2 separate regions of the Homo sapiens genome follow, and region 1 is linked to region 2. Evidence: fine-mapped expression QTL. A gene starts in region 2. The other region holds a variant in brackets. All regions are shown on one strand. Distances are between the middles of the regions.

What was found. PIP is the estimated chance that this variant, and not a neighbour inherited with it, causes the effect.
Region 1: its variant is fine-mapped to the expression of BIN3 in fibroblasts (GTEx, PIP 0.97).

The regions. Positions count from the first base shown.
Region 1 is chr8:22,630,283-22,638,602 of GRCh38, forward strand. BIN3 (bridging integrator 3) reads right to left here. Exons shown (of 9, transcript NM_018688.6): 3 at 6,640-6,680; 4 at 6,243-6,304; 5 at 160-296. Among named protein-coding and RNA genes, the nearest start is that of BIN3-IT1, 7.8 kb to the right of the region's middle. RefSeq lists enhancers at 851-1,385, 1,386-1,920. The variant T/TA (reference allele first, on the strand shown) is at 4,284.
Region 2 is chr8:22,664,729-22,673,053 of GRCh38, forward strand. BIN3 (bridging integrator 3) reads right to left here and starts at 4,393. Exons shown (of 9, transcript NM_018688.6): 1 at 4,316-4,393. The coding sequence starts at 4,323. RefSeq lists a silencer at 4,093-4,252, enhancers at 4,116-4,745, 4,503-4,562 and a cis regulatory region at 8,252-8,325.

The DNA of each region.
Region 1 (8,320 bases), 34 kb before region 2:
AGAGCCCTGTGGGCTTGCAGCACCTTGCAGCACACGAGGCCAGAGGGCTTAGAGCCCTGAGAGCAGAGGGAGCCCACTCGGGCCTCCCCGCACAGTCCACCCAGAGGCCCAGACCGGGCAGAAGTCATGCTTGCCCACCCCACACCAAGACCTAGTCACCTTTTCCTGATTGAAGGCATCCATCCGCTTCATGGCCGTGTCCAGGGCCGTCACCATGTTCAGAAGGTCCTGGTCTTGCTCACAGAGGGGATTGGAGAGTAAGTCCAAGGATATCTTCACGGCAGATTTTGACATGGCTGTGGGAAGCCAAAGCTCGGTGAACCTTCTATGAAGGGGCAGGTTTCACGGCCTTCTCTCCAGGACCCCGTCCTCCTATGCCAGGGGCCTGCACCCTGAAGACCTCTTCCCACAGCCACGGCCGTCAAGAACGGCGAAGTACCACACAACCACAAGCTGCTGATCCCCATGGTTTAATGTTCATTCCTGACCCTAACACTGCTCCAGACAATTCTTTTGAGCCGCTTTACCTGTTCTCCAAACCCTGGGTTAGAAAAGGACCATCTGGGTGGGAGGCTATAAAATATGTTTCTGGCTCCAAAGATTCTAATTCAGTAAACCCGGTACCCAAGAATATGCATTTAAAACCGCTCTCCAAGTGGTTTGGACGTGATGCTTGGTTTGGGACTCCTGGATGGACAAGAATAACAGTACTCCAGTTTACACATGCTTTTACTACAAAAGGCCCAACAGTAAATATTTCAGGCTTCGTGGGCCATACAATTTCTGTTGCAACTTCTCAACTCTGCCTTGTGCTGTGAAAACTGCCAGCGACAACACATAAAAAAAGGGATGTGGCTGTTTCAATAAAACTTTATTGACAAAACTAGGTCAGATTAGGCCAGCAGCTGCACCCTGCCAACCCCTGGTTTCCTCAATATCCAGTAGGAAGAGATACGCTGGAAAATGTGTTTTCCCCCAAGACTCGCCCAGACACACACTGCAGCTGGTACAGGCGGGACTGGGACAGCAGGGCCCTCCTCCCGGGTCTGTTCCTGCTCCCCCAGAATTTTGTTTGTAAATAATGGAAACCTGGGGACTTGTACGGGACAAAGAGCTCCAAAGCTGCCAGCAGGTCCCCATCTTAGGGTTCTGCCAAGGTTCCCATGCACTCTCATTTAGGGCTCAAACAACCCAGGGGATGTCTAGCGGAAATGTAGTTTGGTTCCATTTTAGCGAGGAGGCAGATTAGGCGCAAAAGGGTTTGTAATGCCTCCAAGGTCAAACGGCTGAGTGCGCCAGCCGGGCCCTGACCCTTGACCCTGGGCAGCTGCTTCCCTGTTCACTGCTCTCCTTCTGATCTGGCCTAGAGGAAGCCAGTGGACAGGTCCATCAGGCTCTGTCCATCAGGCATCCACTGACGTTTTTCAAGGCACCCTGGTACCGGATCCCCATGAATGTGCCGCCCACCCCTCTGTGCTCCTCCCTCCTGTGTTGACATTCCCTGCTGGGCAGATGGGAAGCCTGGGAGTCACAGGCGGCTCAGAGGCGGGCTGGAGACCTGCTGGCAGCTTTGGAGCTCTTGGTCCTGAACATGTTTTCAGGCCTCCATTATTTCTAGATTCTAGAAACAAAATTCTGGAGGGGCAGGAAGCGGCCCTGGAGAAGGGTCATGCTGGCCTGATGCCGTCTGTACCAGTGTCAGAGTGCATCTGGGGCAGGTCTCAGGAGAGAAGACACATTGTGAATGCATTTCTTACCATATGCATGTTACTGAATTTAAGATGCTCTTCATTATAAGTCACTTATTGTATGAACTACTAAGGGAGAAAAAATTGTTGTCAATCAAACCAGGCTACACTTTCAGTACTTTGATTTCAGAGACATTAACTGTGGAAAAAGTGTCTTAGGACCCATGACATAAGGTCTGCCTCCCAGTTAATCACAGATGTGGCCTTGCCTAGCACTCCATGGCATGAACCTGAACCCTGACCCTGCGCTCCCCGGGGAAGGGTCTGCCTCCGCCAGGCCCCTTCACCAGTCAGCAAAGCAGCGCTGAGCGGACTAGCCAGCCCGGAGCACCCTCCTGGGGTTTTTCTGGAATCTGGGAGAGTGCTACAGTCAACCAGCAAAAGGGCAAACTGTGGGAGAAGGCTGGAAATGTAAACTTTCCAGAAATGTTGAAGCAACGGAGGGAAAAACACCTCTTAAATTCTGTGGAGTGACTCTGTAGATTTAGGAACAAACGTTACGTATAACTTGATTTGATTATGAAATGATCACATACAGCATAATAAAAAGATAATAAAATTCTGGATAAAGCTGGAAATGTTTCTGAAAAACATCTTCTGCTATTTCTTAAAAAAATATCTGAGGAAAACAACCCAAAAAGCCAGAGGAGCGAGGACACGGTCTTTCCACTTTCCTTTTTTTTTTTTTTTTCAGACGGAGTTTCGCTCTTGTCACCCAGGCTGGATGGAGTGCAATGGCATCATCTCGGCTCACTGCATCCTCCGCCTCCTGGCTTCAAGTGATTCTCCTGCCTCAGCCTCTCAAGTAGCTGGGATTACAGGTGCCTGCCATCACACCCACCTAATTTTTGTATTTTTAGTAGAGACGGGGTTTCACCATGTTGGCCAGGCTGGTCTCGAACTCCTGACCTCAGGTGATCTACCTGCCTTTGCCTGCCAAAGTGCTGGGATTACAGGTGTGAGCCACTGCGCCCAGCCCAGCTGCATTTTCCCCTTTCTTTCCTAAAGCTCTTGCATTGTCAGGAAGTCAAGGAACTGAGTGGGCTCAGTGGCCGGCCCTGGGCAGAACTGGGTCTGGAATCCCCGCCCAGTGATGCCCCCGCTTCATGTGAGCAGAGCAGAGCTGGGGTAGATGACACCAAGAACACCATGGTCTTGGCTGGGCGTAGTGGCTCATGCCTGTAATCCCTGTGCTTTGGGAAGCTGAAGCAGGAGGATCCCTTGAGCCCAGGAGTTCGAGACCAGCCTGGATGACACAGTGTGACTCTGTTCCCCCTCAACAAAAATAAACAGCAGGTCTCCATGCCCCTCTGGACCTGTGGTCCCTGCCCCAGCCCATACCCCTCATTGTTCCCTGCAGGGACTGGGAGAGGGGCACAGTCAGCCTGGCCCACACCAGGAGGCTGGTGATCTTTGAACCTTAGAGAAAGTGAGGGTCTTGGACCCCACCCGGGTCTCTGGAGTCCTGATGCGGCCTCTGGAATGTAAGATTCAAAGATTCACCAGAGCACTCTGAAAGTAGTATGAGTTTCTGAAAGAAAGGTCATCTTTTTTAGAATAACTGGGGATTTTCCACCTTGCTGGGGGAGCGCAGGAGATTCCACGCTCAGGAAAAGCATCCCTCCATTCCCCTCAACTGTCCAGATCAGTGGAGCTCACAGTGTGGGCCTCAGCATCACCTGGGAACTCCAGGGACACACATTTTCAGGTCTCGCCCAGCTCATGAGTTAGTTGGAGGCTGGAGGTGGGGCCCAGCGGCCCACGGCACAGCAAGCCCGCCTACAACACTGATGCCCCGTACATGAGACTGATGTGGCTGTCAGGCTCGCCTTGGCCCCATGACCACCACCACCGCTCTTCAGAGGCACTGTCTCTGCCCACATCCATTCCTGACTGAGGACAGTAGTGTTAGGCTTCTGCAGTTACCCATTCAACTCTGGTTTCTCTGCTGGGAAACTAAGCTTTCCACAGCCATGGACGGTGCGTCACGGACCCCTGATGCCCTCCTTGGTTCCGTAGCAAGCCACTGTGAACACAGCACACCCTGGCTTCGTTTATGCTCTGACAATGCAGCTGTCTGCAGAAGCAGGAAGGAAAGGAAGCAATGGCTCACAGCAGCTCCCGAACTGGAAAGGCAGTGGGGACCGATCAAGAAAAATGCGACCCAAGTAACTCAGACCTGAAATAACTACAAAACAAACAACTGCAGACAAACTCCCAAATCCAGTCCTTGGCTTGTGACACACATAGTTTGGCAACGCTAGAGGCCAGGAGCAAGGTGCATGTTCAGACCAGCCCACGGCCCAGGAATTAGCACTGGCATGAAAATTCATGGCACAGACCAAGACGGCCACAGTCCCTGCACAGGCAGTCAGCGCTCACCCGGGCATGGTGGTGGTGACGGCGGCTCCCAGGGAAGGAACGCTTTCCTTTTGTGATCAGTGCTTTGTAGGAAAGGTGTGTTTACACATCAGTAACTGGCTGAGGCTTAGGAGCTGGCATAAAATGGGAACAAATTCAAATCACTGCCTCTAT[T/TA]GGGACATTTCAAGGGTTTTCCTCGTAACTGCAGTACCAAGTAGGAGCACACTGGTCCTCAAGTCCCACCCGTAGGTGCCCACTGCCCTGTGGCCCTTTGAATGGTGTCAGGAGACAGTGAGGCCGCCCCATTTGCACTAGGCTCACAGACAGCCAAGCAAAGAGTGGATGGGCAACGGTTCCGGAGTGGGGGCTGTTTCGGTCACCTTCTAGTTTGGTGGCGGGCACGGGGGTGGGCAAAGGAATGAGTGGGGCATGGGGAGGCTTCGCTGTGGAGACAAGGCCCTGGACTTGGAGAAGAGGAGCTGAACTCTTCCTCCTTTATCAAATGGACATGCCCATTTATAAAATGGGTGTGTCATGTGCCCTGCCAATCTCAAGGTCAGAAAAGCTCAGGGAGGTGAAATTTCTTCACAGCCATAACATGGCATTATTCAGCAGCTGGAGTGGCCGAGGGGACTGAAGATGGCTTCTCCACCCTCCTGCTGCCTCTCCTGCATCTCTGGTCAGCGTGCACCACCTTAGGGCCTCCGCGCTTGCTGTCCACTGTGTTTCAGGCCCTCTTCCCTTGGCTCTACCTGTGTGGGTTATTCATTCCTTCAGGACTCTGCCCAGGGATCACGTCCCCACGAAGGCCTCCCTTGACCCTGTCACTCTCCACCTCCTTATTTTTATTGACCTTGCACGCCACGACGTGTCATTATATACCGATCCGCTTGTGGACCTCTTGCAGGTCTTCCTCCTAGAACGTAAGCTCCCATCTTGTCTTGCTGTTGAGTCTCTAGTGCTGAGAGTGCCTGGTGCACGTGGGTTCTCGGTCAGCATCTGCTGAGTGAGAGGAAGTGGGCAGTCCTGGCCATACCCAAGTCTCTTTCAGGTCCTCGTCCCAGTGTGGTATATAGACACGGCTTCCCCACTGGACCCAGGGAAGGAGCTGCAGGAGTCCACCCAGTCAGGGAGGCTTGCTGCCGACCATGACGACGGTGATGACAGGAGCGGACACCCCGAGAGCTGACCCGTGCCAGGCCCTGTTCTCAGTGCTTTACGTTGCTCATCCAACTTCATCTTCAGCAACAGCCTGTGCCACTCGGATTGGCGTTACCTGTGCTTCTCGGGTGACGGAACTGAGGTAGAGCTAAGTCAGCTGTCCAGAGCTGCGCAGGGAGTGCTGAAGCTATTGATCAACCTTTGGTCAAGTGCTTGCTGCTCCGGGGTGGGAAAGTCAAGGCCTTGGAGAAAGAACCTCAAGGAATGGTCTCCATCTCTCCCGGCTGCTCGTCGCCTCCTTCCTGGGACATGGCCTGCAGCAAGGGCTCTGGATGCTCCCTTATTCCCGACCTGCTTGTGTCTCTAGGCTCCCAGGCCTGGTTCCTCCTTGTTTCAAACAAGAGCTCTCCAGCCAAGAAACCTCCCCAAGGGCCCTGGCTGTTTCCCAGCACCTGCTGGCCCCCACTTCCCAAGGACCTCCCGGTGCCCTTTGTCATCATAGAATTATCTGGGGTATTTCTGGCCTTACACTTTAACCCAACCTCCTGTTTAAACACATGACAGCTTCCATTCTTGTTGCCACTGGAGCGCCTGTCCCAGCAGGCCACGGAGTCTCGTTTCTGCGGGAAGGAATGTGCTTCCCTTTCCCTCTGGACAGCCTGAGCCGGTGGCCAGGATTCTGAGGCAATGGAGGCATCTGCTACCAGAAGCTTCCACCAGCTGCTGTACTGTCCTGACTGGAGTCCCAGGAGAGCCTTGCCCCAGCACCCACATCCAGAGTGGGGCAGTGCGAGCTCTGTGCAAAGTGGGATGTGACTGGTGAGGAGTGACTGCCCTGAGGCTGCTTCTCAGGACACTGGGTACACGTCCTCTGAGCGCAGCAACTTCAGAGCCCTTGGGGGGCTGAGAGAGGAGGGTGCCCACCTCTGCCCCACCTGCTCAAGCGAGTGGTGCGGGTGGAAAGTCACCTACCCAGGTCTGCGTCGGTGCTCTTCTTCATGTCTTTCTGCAGCCTCCGGGTCTGCTCTTCCAGCCTGCAAGGCAGGGGACGGGCTGCTTGGGGTCCCCTTCCTTCCCCCTACCTGAGCGAAGCCCAGGTGCTCTGGAGGGCCTGCCAAGGAGGAGGAGAAAGGGATCTTCTCCACGGGGACTTTTCCCGCTGACTGAAGTGCCACTACACCCAAAGGCTATGAGTGAATGACTCTCACATGGCCATTGCCAGGGAACAGTTCCAGCAGCCTGGTGACCTGAGCTGCCCTCAGCTTCCAGGGTGCTCACGGGGCAGGGCACGGGGCAGACAGGTGAGACCTGGCAGGGGGCCCTTGTCCCTCCCTGCCTCCCACCTCATCTTTCTGGGGTTGACACTCACTGCTGAAGTTTTCCATACTCCCTTTCAAAGTCTCTCTCCACCTGAAACGAGAGAGATAACTCAATTATCGGAGAAATGACAACACGGTGGAAAAAACCTCCCAGCCTCCTGAAACTCTCTCCACACCCTGCCCCAGTCCGCAGAAAACAACATGGTCCAGTTCACACAAGCACCGACAGATCGCTCCTGACACGGTATTTCTGAGATCCCAAGTTAATTAAGTGTTTGAATTACGGAGGAAGGCTCCCCTCCCAGAGGGTCCAGCCAGGCAGGTGCCAGCGGACTGTGGCTCTGCTCTTCCCAGCTGGGAGCAAGGCACTCGCTGCATGCCCTCCTCACCCCAGGCTGGAGGCAGTCAGGGTGCTCAGAACGTGACTGGACCCCATCCAGGAAGGCAGCAGAGTGCAGAGGAGAGGGCGGGTCTGGAATTGGGGGTCTGTCTCTGCCTTTTCCTAGTTTCCAGGTCCATGCAGGGCACCTCCCCTCCTACGCGGCCCTCCACTCAGGGCCACCTGCCCCTGCTGGGCTCAGGGTGGGTCAGGAACAATCGTGCACCTGTGCTTTGTGATTGGGATGCATCAAACACAGACACTGTGACTACTGACTCAGGTCAGGCTCTCTCCATTCCCGACCGGGTATCAACTCTCTTGAGAGCCAGCAACACTGAAACCAAATGGGTGAGTCCTGAACCCGGGGCTGCACTTGTTGCGGAAGATGAAGTTAAGAAGTCTAGTACTTTCTTCTGGTGCCTTGACTTCACTATCTGTAAAACGGAGCCTCATGATTGGTCTCTTATGGGCATGCAATGGGAAGTAAATGACATCGAGAGGCAAAGGAGACTAAGCTAGAGGCCTGCCCTCCCTGGCCAGAGCTGCAGCCGTCAGGTGCCAGCTTCGGGCTTCGTGCTCTGAGAAGTCAAAACCGCTAACTCACATTCACAGAGCCCTCACTGTGTGCTTTACAAGAATGCAGTTCTCTACACTCATCTCCAAGGCAGGTCACCGGGAACCAGGTTACGTACCCTGGCCAAGGTCACCCCATTGGTGAGGGGTAGAGTTGAGCACAGTGGGAATGGAACCCAGGCAGCCTGGCTCCACAGCCTGTGTTCGTAACCATCATTCTCCTGGAAGGCATTTGCTGACCCAAGAAAGAAGTCTTCCTGGCTGCTCCCTGGGAATCCTGTCCCCAAGAGCCCTAGATCCTGACTTCTGCTCTGAGGGTCAGGGAGTACACATCTGCAGAAACTGTCAAAGCCACGCTATTCCTACCACTGTCTTCCAGCAACGCTGACCTGATGAGAGAATTCTAAGCCCCTTAACCTTAGCACTCCACGTTTGGATTTAGATTAATTCAACATAGCCCTGGAATGACAAAACAGCATTTATGCTACAAATGAGGAGCCCGAAGCCCAGAGACAGGAGTGACTTCCCTAAGGATGCAGGACATTCTGGTGGCAATGCAAGGCTAGAATCCAGAGTCCTGGTTCAGGTCTTTTTGTTTCAAATTTAAACAACATTCATTCCTACGAACATGTATGAGCACCTATTAAGTGCGATGCATTCTGCCAGGTTCTGGGGATACCCTGGTGATTCAAACAGACATGGGCCCTGGTGGTGGAGATAAACAACTGCCAGATACAAATTTACTTGCTGACTATGATGGGCCTTTTGGACAGCAGGAA
Region 2 (8,325 bases):
AATTCTAGTAAGTTACCAAGGGGGATCATAAGACTGCACTGCTTGCGCAGACATAAGCATGAAGTCAGACAAAGGACGGGAAAGCCATCTGAAAAGTTAGAAGCACTCTACACATGTGAGACAGCAACGGTAATCATAGGGGAAAGGACTTCACTGAGAAAAAAACTGAATAATGGTTTTGTTTGACCCAGAAGTTTACCTTCTTTATATTCCATTCATTTAACAATTACCTGTTAGATACCCACTATGTGCATGATACCCACTATGCGTACAAAAAGATGAAGAAGCTCTATGTCGCTCCTGTTCTCATGGGGTTGGTGTGGAAGGGAGGTGTACGTCTGTGATACTCAGAAGGATGCAGAAGTGCTACAGGAGAAGCACTATGGAAGTACAGAAGAAACCCAGCAAAGCACTTTGGAGTGGAGGATCAGAAGGAGTGGGGAGGAGAAATCACAGGCAGCCTGACCTGGAAGCCACTTGTGTCGGTCAATTTAACAATAGTACTTTCAGAGGCTCTTCATTTTAGGAAGTGGTTTGTAGGTTCTGCAAGTTTTTATCTTAACATTTTTCCTGAGCTGAGGCAAGTCAGGAAAAGGGAAAAAAGGCCCCATTCATATATTTAATAAACACTTCCTGACTGCCAGGAACAGTGCTAGGGAATAGCAATGACCACAAGACAGTCCCCATACTCAAGAACTCACAGACAAGTAAACCAGCCAGCGGAGTACAGATGCTGATGAAGGTCAGAAGAGCGGCACCCAGTGCAGCATGGCAGGGTGTGAGGGGCCACTCAGGGAAGACCCTCAGAGAAGGTGAAGCGTGGCCTGACTCTTGAAGGATGAGTAGATGCTGGCCTAGTGGACAGGGTGTGAGTGAAGGGGAAACATTTCAGGCAGAAGGGACAGTTATCCAGAGGCACATGGGCACGAGAGAGCAGGAGAAGCTTGGAGGATGGAACACACGGAGTGAAGATGGACAGCCAGGCCCAGAGGGCCTCAGAAGCCCTGGCCCAGAGTTGGGCCTCTATCCTGAAGATGATGGCAAGGGACTACAGGGTGAAAACAGGAAAGAAACAAAAAGGATCAAACATGAGGAACACCAAAGTGTGAAGGGCAGACAGAGGTAGAAGACCCCGGAAGAGTCAGAAAAATATCACTCCACTCATTTCACAGCAGGCTCAGGTGGCAAATTGTCAGCAGGAATGGCCACTCCATGCTACAGATGGAGAAACTAAGACAGAGAACAGCTCAATGCTTGACCAGGCCGCACTGTGAGTGGCTGAGCCAGAACCTGAACGCAGCACTCTAACTCCTACTCACACTTACCTGCTCTGCCTCTAATTTCCTTCCTTTTTGTCAAACTACTGGACCCCTAGGTATAGGGAGATTTCTTCCAGTACTCCCTTTTCCTCCTCGTTTAAGCCTAAAATCATCAAGGTGTATGGTTCAACAGGAGGCTACAATTCCTGGAGCCAGCTTAGATTGAGGTCACTATTCTTAATTCTACTTAATCCTCTCTCCATACCATAATAAAGCCACCTGAGTATACACTGGAAGATGGGGAAGAGAGACAGGAAGGGGAAAAGGGAGACAAGAGGGAGACAGAAATAGGGAGGGAGGGGGTGAGTGGGGAGGAGAGGAGAGAAAGTTGGGAGGGGGGCAAATGGCGGGGGGAGGTGGGGTGGACAATGGGAGAGAAAAAGAGAGCGAGAGAGAGAGAAGCATTTGGCTTGAGGCCAAGAAGTGAATCTGTGATCTGAGATGTGAATATCAAATGCCTTCTTCCTAGTAGGACAGACCACCGGGTCACTTTTCTGAAAGGCAGATGGGTGTATGGGGAGTGGATGGGTAGATGGTGCAGGAAGGCAGCAGGTACCCACTAAACAAACAGGGGGTGGGCGGGTTGCCTGCACAGAGGAAGCAGAGAACAAAGGCCTCTCACTCTTCATGCAAAGTCCACAGTGTGCAAAGGGCATCAATATTGGACATTTCTCACTGTGACATTTTGAAAGCTCAGCCTAGCCCAGAACAATGGTTACCCTCTGGGGACCATGGGCCATGTGCCTTATTTAATGATGGCTTGGCACAGCCCATGTACTTGGTGAACTTGACCTTGGGCATCAGCCTCCCATGATGGCTCTACGTCACTCTGGTCTCTTCCCCTAATGAGAATTCCAGTCTCACATGAATGGATGGATTCATTCTGGGGGCAGGAAAACCACTCAGGGAGTGAATCAGAAGGACCCAGCCCCGGTCTCCTTGCCAGCCATTGAGCTAGGAACTGAGTGTGATTGTGTGCCCAGGCGCCGGTGCTGTTCCCGTCTTTGAGAGACAGGGTCAGGGTCCACGCAAGAGATGACGTAGAAGCCCTTTAAGGGGGAAGAGAAAGGAATCTCAGCTTTGAGGGACAAAGCCACCCTTCTGGCTGTGACTCTCAGTCCAAGGAGATACCAAGATGTGCATGTACTGGTAAATTAAAGCTACTAGATGAAAATCTCAGCTCTTGTTAGACAGTTGTCAATCTCAATTCTCTCCAACCTGACAGGATAACCTTTAAGGAATGGGCTACTATTTTTTCAGAAGGGAAACTTTCTGTGAGACAGGTGGAAACAACCTGCTTCGGATCACCCAGAGAATCATTTACCTTTATTAGTTTCTGCTGTGCTCTTCTCCCAACTTGTGAAGGAAAGATTGGTTCAGTAAAGGCCAATCTAGGCAATATAAAGCATCTGTACTGCCTCATTTTCACTTTGAAAAATTAGGTAAGAACACTCCAAAGATTCAAGACGCAGCAGCCAAAAGGATATCTATATTGCAAGACTGGGGGGCCCAGAATGACACTGAAAGGACGTAATTCCTCTGGGAAAGGGAACTGAAGAATTGCCGCTTTGCCCACCACTAACTAGGTTATAACAAGACAGGGAAGGTAGCTTTTTAAGGCTCCAGCCCCTTATTGGCCTCCTGGAGCAAATGGTGGAGGGAAAAGCAGAAGCTCCTGCCGGGGCTTATTAGGACATTGCTTCAGGCTTTCCTCCCGTGCTTGCGGTGATTGTCTGACATTTGTCCATCAATCTTGGTCTAAGAAACAGGTGGGGGAGGGGACAGATGGTTCGCATTTTACTTTAGAGAAGTATCCCTGACACTGACTGATATCAGCTGCTTGCGTTCTCCACTGATGGCCAAAATTAAGCTTCAAAAGCCTTCCTGAAGGACATTCTGTTATCTTAATTCATTCATAACTGGTTATCATGCGCTTTGCATAAACAAACACACTAGCCTCTGAGGACAGAGTGGCAAATATGTTCCCTATGTCCATGGGCTGATTAATCTTGTACATCTCTGGGGCTCAATTTATTCACACACTATAGTTGAATCCCCTGAGGTCCAGGGTTGTGGCTATATAGGTCCTTGGGCCTGACGGTAAGGTAAGGTGCTGCATATGAGTATTCTCTAACCTCTAAGAAAGCCCCAGGAAGGCAGGCAAGTCACAATTCTCTCCTGTGAACATAAATAATCGAGAGCAACAAATGGGGATTGCCTTTTGGGCAAACTGAGTCTTACAAAATAAATACACCATTATGAAGTGTCTACTATGACCCAAGTATCACATCATACTGCAGCAACTGGAATTGTGACTCTATTACTCTAAGACTCCCTGGCTTCTTTTCTCATGGCATGATAGTTCCCATAAGTTTAAACTTAACCATGCCTATTTAGAGGGCAGGCAGTGAGTAATAGCTCTGGAATGATTAAAACCAGTCCAATCCCACAGTGGAAGGGTGTGTGCGGAGTGTAATTCTGGCCCCTTTAAAAAGAGAAGCAAGTTTTCCTTGTCTTTTGAAGCCTGCTAAGTCGTGCAAAGAGGATAGTTACCCAGAAGGGAGTGGGTTTTGATTAGTGAACTGGGTCCAGGCTGCCACAGCGAGGGCCACAGCTCTGGAGGGACTGGCGCGGGGCAGAGATGCCCACAGGAGAGAAAGACGACACTGACTCCACCTCAATGGGTGTTTAAAAAAGGAGGGAACAAGGAAGTCCCTCACTTCAAGGAGCTAGGAGGACGCGAGTCCGGCAAAACGGGTCAGACGCGGAGTCCCAGGCTAAGAGGATCATCCGCCACTCTCCCCGGGAGTCCTGCTGAGAGACTGCGACTCCGGAAAGCACCGAGGGAACGACCCTAGGGCAGGGGCTGTCGGGCCTTGCTCTGGGGCGGAGGGGTCGCGCGGGACCGGAGGGAGCCGGGACGCGGCACTGACACAGGGCCAGGGGCCTCGCGGGTCCGCGGGTCCAGCAGCTCCCGCCGCCTGGGCCTCACTCACCAGCTCATGGTCCCGAACCTGCGTCTGCCGCCGGGGTCCTCAGCCACAACTCGTTTCTCTAGGGTCACTTCCGGATTCAACCAGTCTCCAGGAAGTGACGTAAGCCCGCCTCTCTGCCCGGAAGAGGCGGTTGGGAGGCGGAGCCCGGCGCGTTAACCCTTCTGCTGCTGCGTGCTCGCCGCGGAGTTTCCCTTGCCGGCGACTCTCTGGCTCTGGCCAAGCGCTTAGACACACAGGCTGCAACGGGGGATGAGGGGAACCTCTGGGGGCGTTTTCTGCCTTCAACACTGACTCCTAAAGATCTCTTCACCTGACCATGCAGGGCCCTTAGCCGGGCTGTCCCCTCTGTCAAGTGGTTTCTAATCCAGAGACAGTGGCAGCAATTGTCTGTGGGAGAAGAAGCCATTTGGGATGGAGAAAGTGGAAAACTTACATTCTCTGAATGCTCTTTCCTATCTTTTACAGTTTGTACACCACACATGCATTACCTGTTACAAACAAACGGACGTTTCCCTTCCAAGATGGCACAGGGCTCTGAATATCAATAGATAGGTGCTTTTCAGGTTGGAATGTTTCCTAGAGTTATTCAACACAATAAGACGCAGAGTATGAGTTGTTCCCTGCCTTTCAGCCCTTCCCTTTGGTCTCCTCTACAGGACTCAAATGATGTAAATTGCCCCATTCGTTCTATTCCTTCATTTAACTAATACTAGTTGCACTAATATTAGTGTCAGGTACCGAGCCAACCTTAGGATACAGCTATCTCAGAGAAGTATCTGCCCTGCTCTTGTTCCTTCCCAGAGCTACTTTCCTGGAGGGAGAGACAAGCAGGCAATTATAATCATGCTATAGGATAGGATAGAATGAGGTGTGGTGGCAGCCTAGAAGGGGACCCTGAAGTAGCACATGGGGTTTTGGGGAAGGCTTCCAGGAGGAGCCAGTGTGTAAGCCAAGCCCTGAAGGCAGAATCGGGGCTAGCCAGGTGAATCTGAGATGAGGGGTGACGAGGCTCCAGGCAGAGGGAACTTACCATGGCTAAGACACAGACAGGACCAAGCAAGCAGCTGACTTGCCTCGGGTCTCCCAAAGTCAGAATTCAGGGCCTTAGTGGCTCACAAGTTGCCTGGGATTCTGGGCCGACTTGGTTTCCTCACCGCTAAGTACCTCCCTGCCTTGGAAGAGAGACAAGAAGGCAGTGAGGCCCGTGCAGGTGCTGCTGGGCCCCCAGTGACCTTCTCTCTAGGAATTCTCCTTCCTCAGATGGACCGGGATTGTTTCAGGGACTGCTTAGGGGGTTGCTAATCAATGACCTAGCGGGAAAAATATGACCAATGACCTAGAGCAGAAGTAGTGTATGATTTGTTTTGACCTCCTAGGGTGGAGTAGAGGGCTTGAGCAGGAGAGGTAGGAGGGTGGGCCACAGGATGCAGTCTCTCATTTGTGTTTTCTGTTTCCATTCTTGAGAGTCCATAGTTTGACTCAATTGACGTTTCCAATGGAGGTTGGATCCCCAAGCACATCATGCAGATCAGCTTCATTACCATGTTGTTCCTCAGGAAACAGGCCAAAATGAGCACAAGAGCAGCCTTGAAGAGTAAAGAGGAAGAGCAGAAGTCACCAAAGGGTAGCCTGGGCAGAGAGTGTGGGTAAAGGGAAAGAGAGAGTCCTTGCTGCTTTGCAGAGAGTGTGACGGATGGAAGGGCTGTTGTGGGTTTAGGAGCCTCCTGGCAGTTAGCACCTGTGAATAGTTTTCCCACCTGCTTCCTCCCTTCCCCATGTTCTGCCTCCCTCAGTTATGCCCCACAGGGATAAATATTTCCAAACGTTTTAGCCTAGGTAACTGCTATATCCTAGTAGAAGTCTGTTTCAGGGCTGGAGGGCAGCAGACACATCCTAGAGGACTAGAATGGATAAGTTCTGGACTACAAGTCTGGAGGAGTCTGCGGCTCTATTTCCAGTTCAACCTTTGACACTATAACTGACCTCAGATAAGTCACATCCCCTTTGTGGCCTTAGTCCCCTCATCTATAAGATGGAGTGGGTAGATCACATCCCAAAGTATCCAACATTGCAAGGTTCCAAGTCAGCTGTCTTGTTGACTCTAGAGGCCCTAGGGAAATAGGAGAATGGGAAAGGCAGGTGAACAGAGGGGCAAGCCCAGAGAAGTGGGCAGGTCTGAGGAACTGGTGATATCTTGGATAAAGCTAAATATGAATTTTTCTGGGGCTGTGCTGTTGACAGGTCACCTCGAAATCTTTAATGCAGCCAGCAGGATCTTTGAGGTTACTAAAAAGAATGGTGTCCTCCCAGGAGTCTGTCTGGAATGTGCCTGCTTGGTCTCCTTACCTGTGGCTCATTCGCTCAGCTAGAGGGGCACTGGGCTGAGGAGGGACAGTCAGGCATCCTGCTATCCTGTGTTCCTCCATGAGCCTGCTGTGCCATGAGGCATTGATCCCTGGGGAGCTGAACATGGAGACACACAAACACTTCCCACTGTTGTGAAAAACTCAGCCTGCAGGGTCGGGAGCTATGTCTTTCTTATTTATAACCAAAGGGACAGCATGATACAGATTGATCCTGCCCCTGCAGGGAAGGAATGGAAAAGAGAAAATTGGGTTTCTAAGTAGAAGCTGAGAGTGGAGGCGCTTTGGGTAGAGGTGGATACTCCTGGTTTCAAGCCTTGTAAATACTGATTCTTCCCCAGAAGTCTGAGCCTGAAGGTAAAAGACTGTTCAGGTGGCAGAGGTCTACTTCTGGGACAAAGCTGTTTACGAGGGGAAAAGCAGCAGCAGAACCTGCTCCACCATCAGCCCCCAACTTTTCCTTGGAGGTTTTTGCTCAGAAGTTGGTAAGCAGGTGCTTCCCACTGACTCTCATCTCTGGGATTGTCATGTCCTGTCTCTCCCAGCCTTTCCCACACAGAAGTCTAGGGCTGGCCCCCGAGTCTTTCACCATGCCAACCTCTTATTAGTGAAGAGTGAGCATTCCCAGAACCTGGACCTGGGCTGTCAGGGACTTCATTATAGCACTGGGCTAAGGCTGAAAAACTGAATGTGATAGGGCCAAATTGGTGGGCTCAGCTCTCTTGGAGCCCTAAAGGTCTTGATTCCTCAGGGAGGCTCCTGCAGATATTCAGACACAGGCCTCAGGTTTCTCTGTGGCCTCACTGCCCCACTTCTCCCTACTCTGTACCTGCTCAGTAGGACGTCTCAGAAAAATAGCTTTCCCAGGGCCTTTGGGGGGCAAGGACATAGGAGGAGGAGCAAGGGTGGGAGAAGAAGGAGGAAATCAGGGTGAGATTTCCAGTGGTGGGAGGCCCACACGGACTGCTCAAAGGTCAGGGTGAAGTGACACATCAGAAGCCAGGACAGCAAGAAGCGAGCAGAACCAGGAACGCCTGTCTGACCCGTGGCTCTGCCTCCAAGTGGCTTGAGGGAGTCTTGTCCCTCCTCTGGGCCTCATTTTCCTTGACTGCAATGGGAAAGGTCCAGGTTAGATCTGGGAGGGCGAATGGATATCATCCCATGTGCCAACTCTGATTGTCTGCTTGGAATGCAGTGTTGAGGATTCTGGGGAATCTGCCATCAGTGGGGAAGTTCTATGATTGATTAGTCATGTCTGCCTTGGACAAGAAAGAGCGATGAGATGGTTTATATTCCACTTTATTGTTATTATTTTTATTATAAGTTAACAATAATTGAGCACTCATGACATGACAGGCACTATTCTCTGCAGTTCACATTTAATCCTTGCCTCAACCCTGTGAGGTGGATACTACCATTATTATCATTTCACAGATGATGGCGCTGAAGTATAGCCATGAAGCAATAGTATAGCTTCATGAAGCAGTGAAGTGGGGTTTCTGACCTGAGCACCCTGGCTTTGATCCTTATGCTTTTGCCACTACAGTTTGCCATTTGACCTCCAACAACCTTTGGTTCTGTCAAGGCACAGTGAGGTCAGAAGCCAGCAGACAGATGGAACCAGGAGAAGCACCGCTACTAAATGGC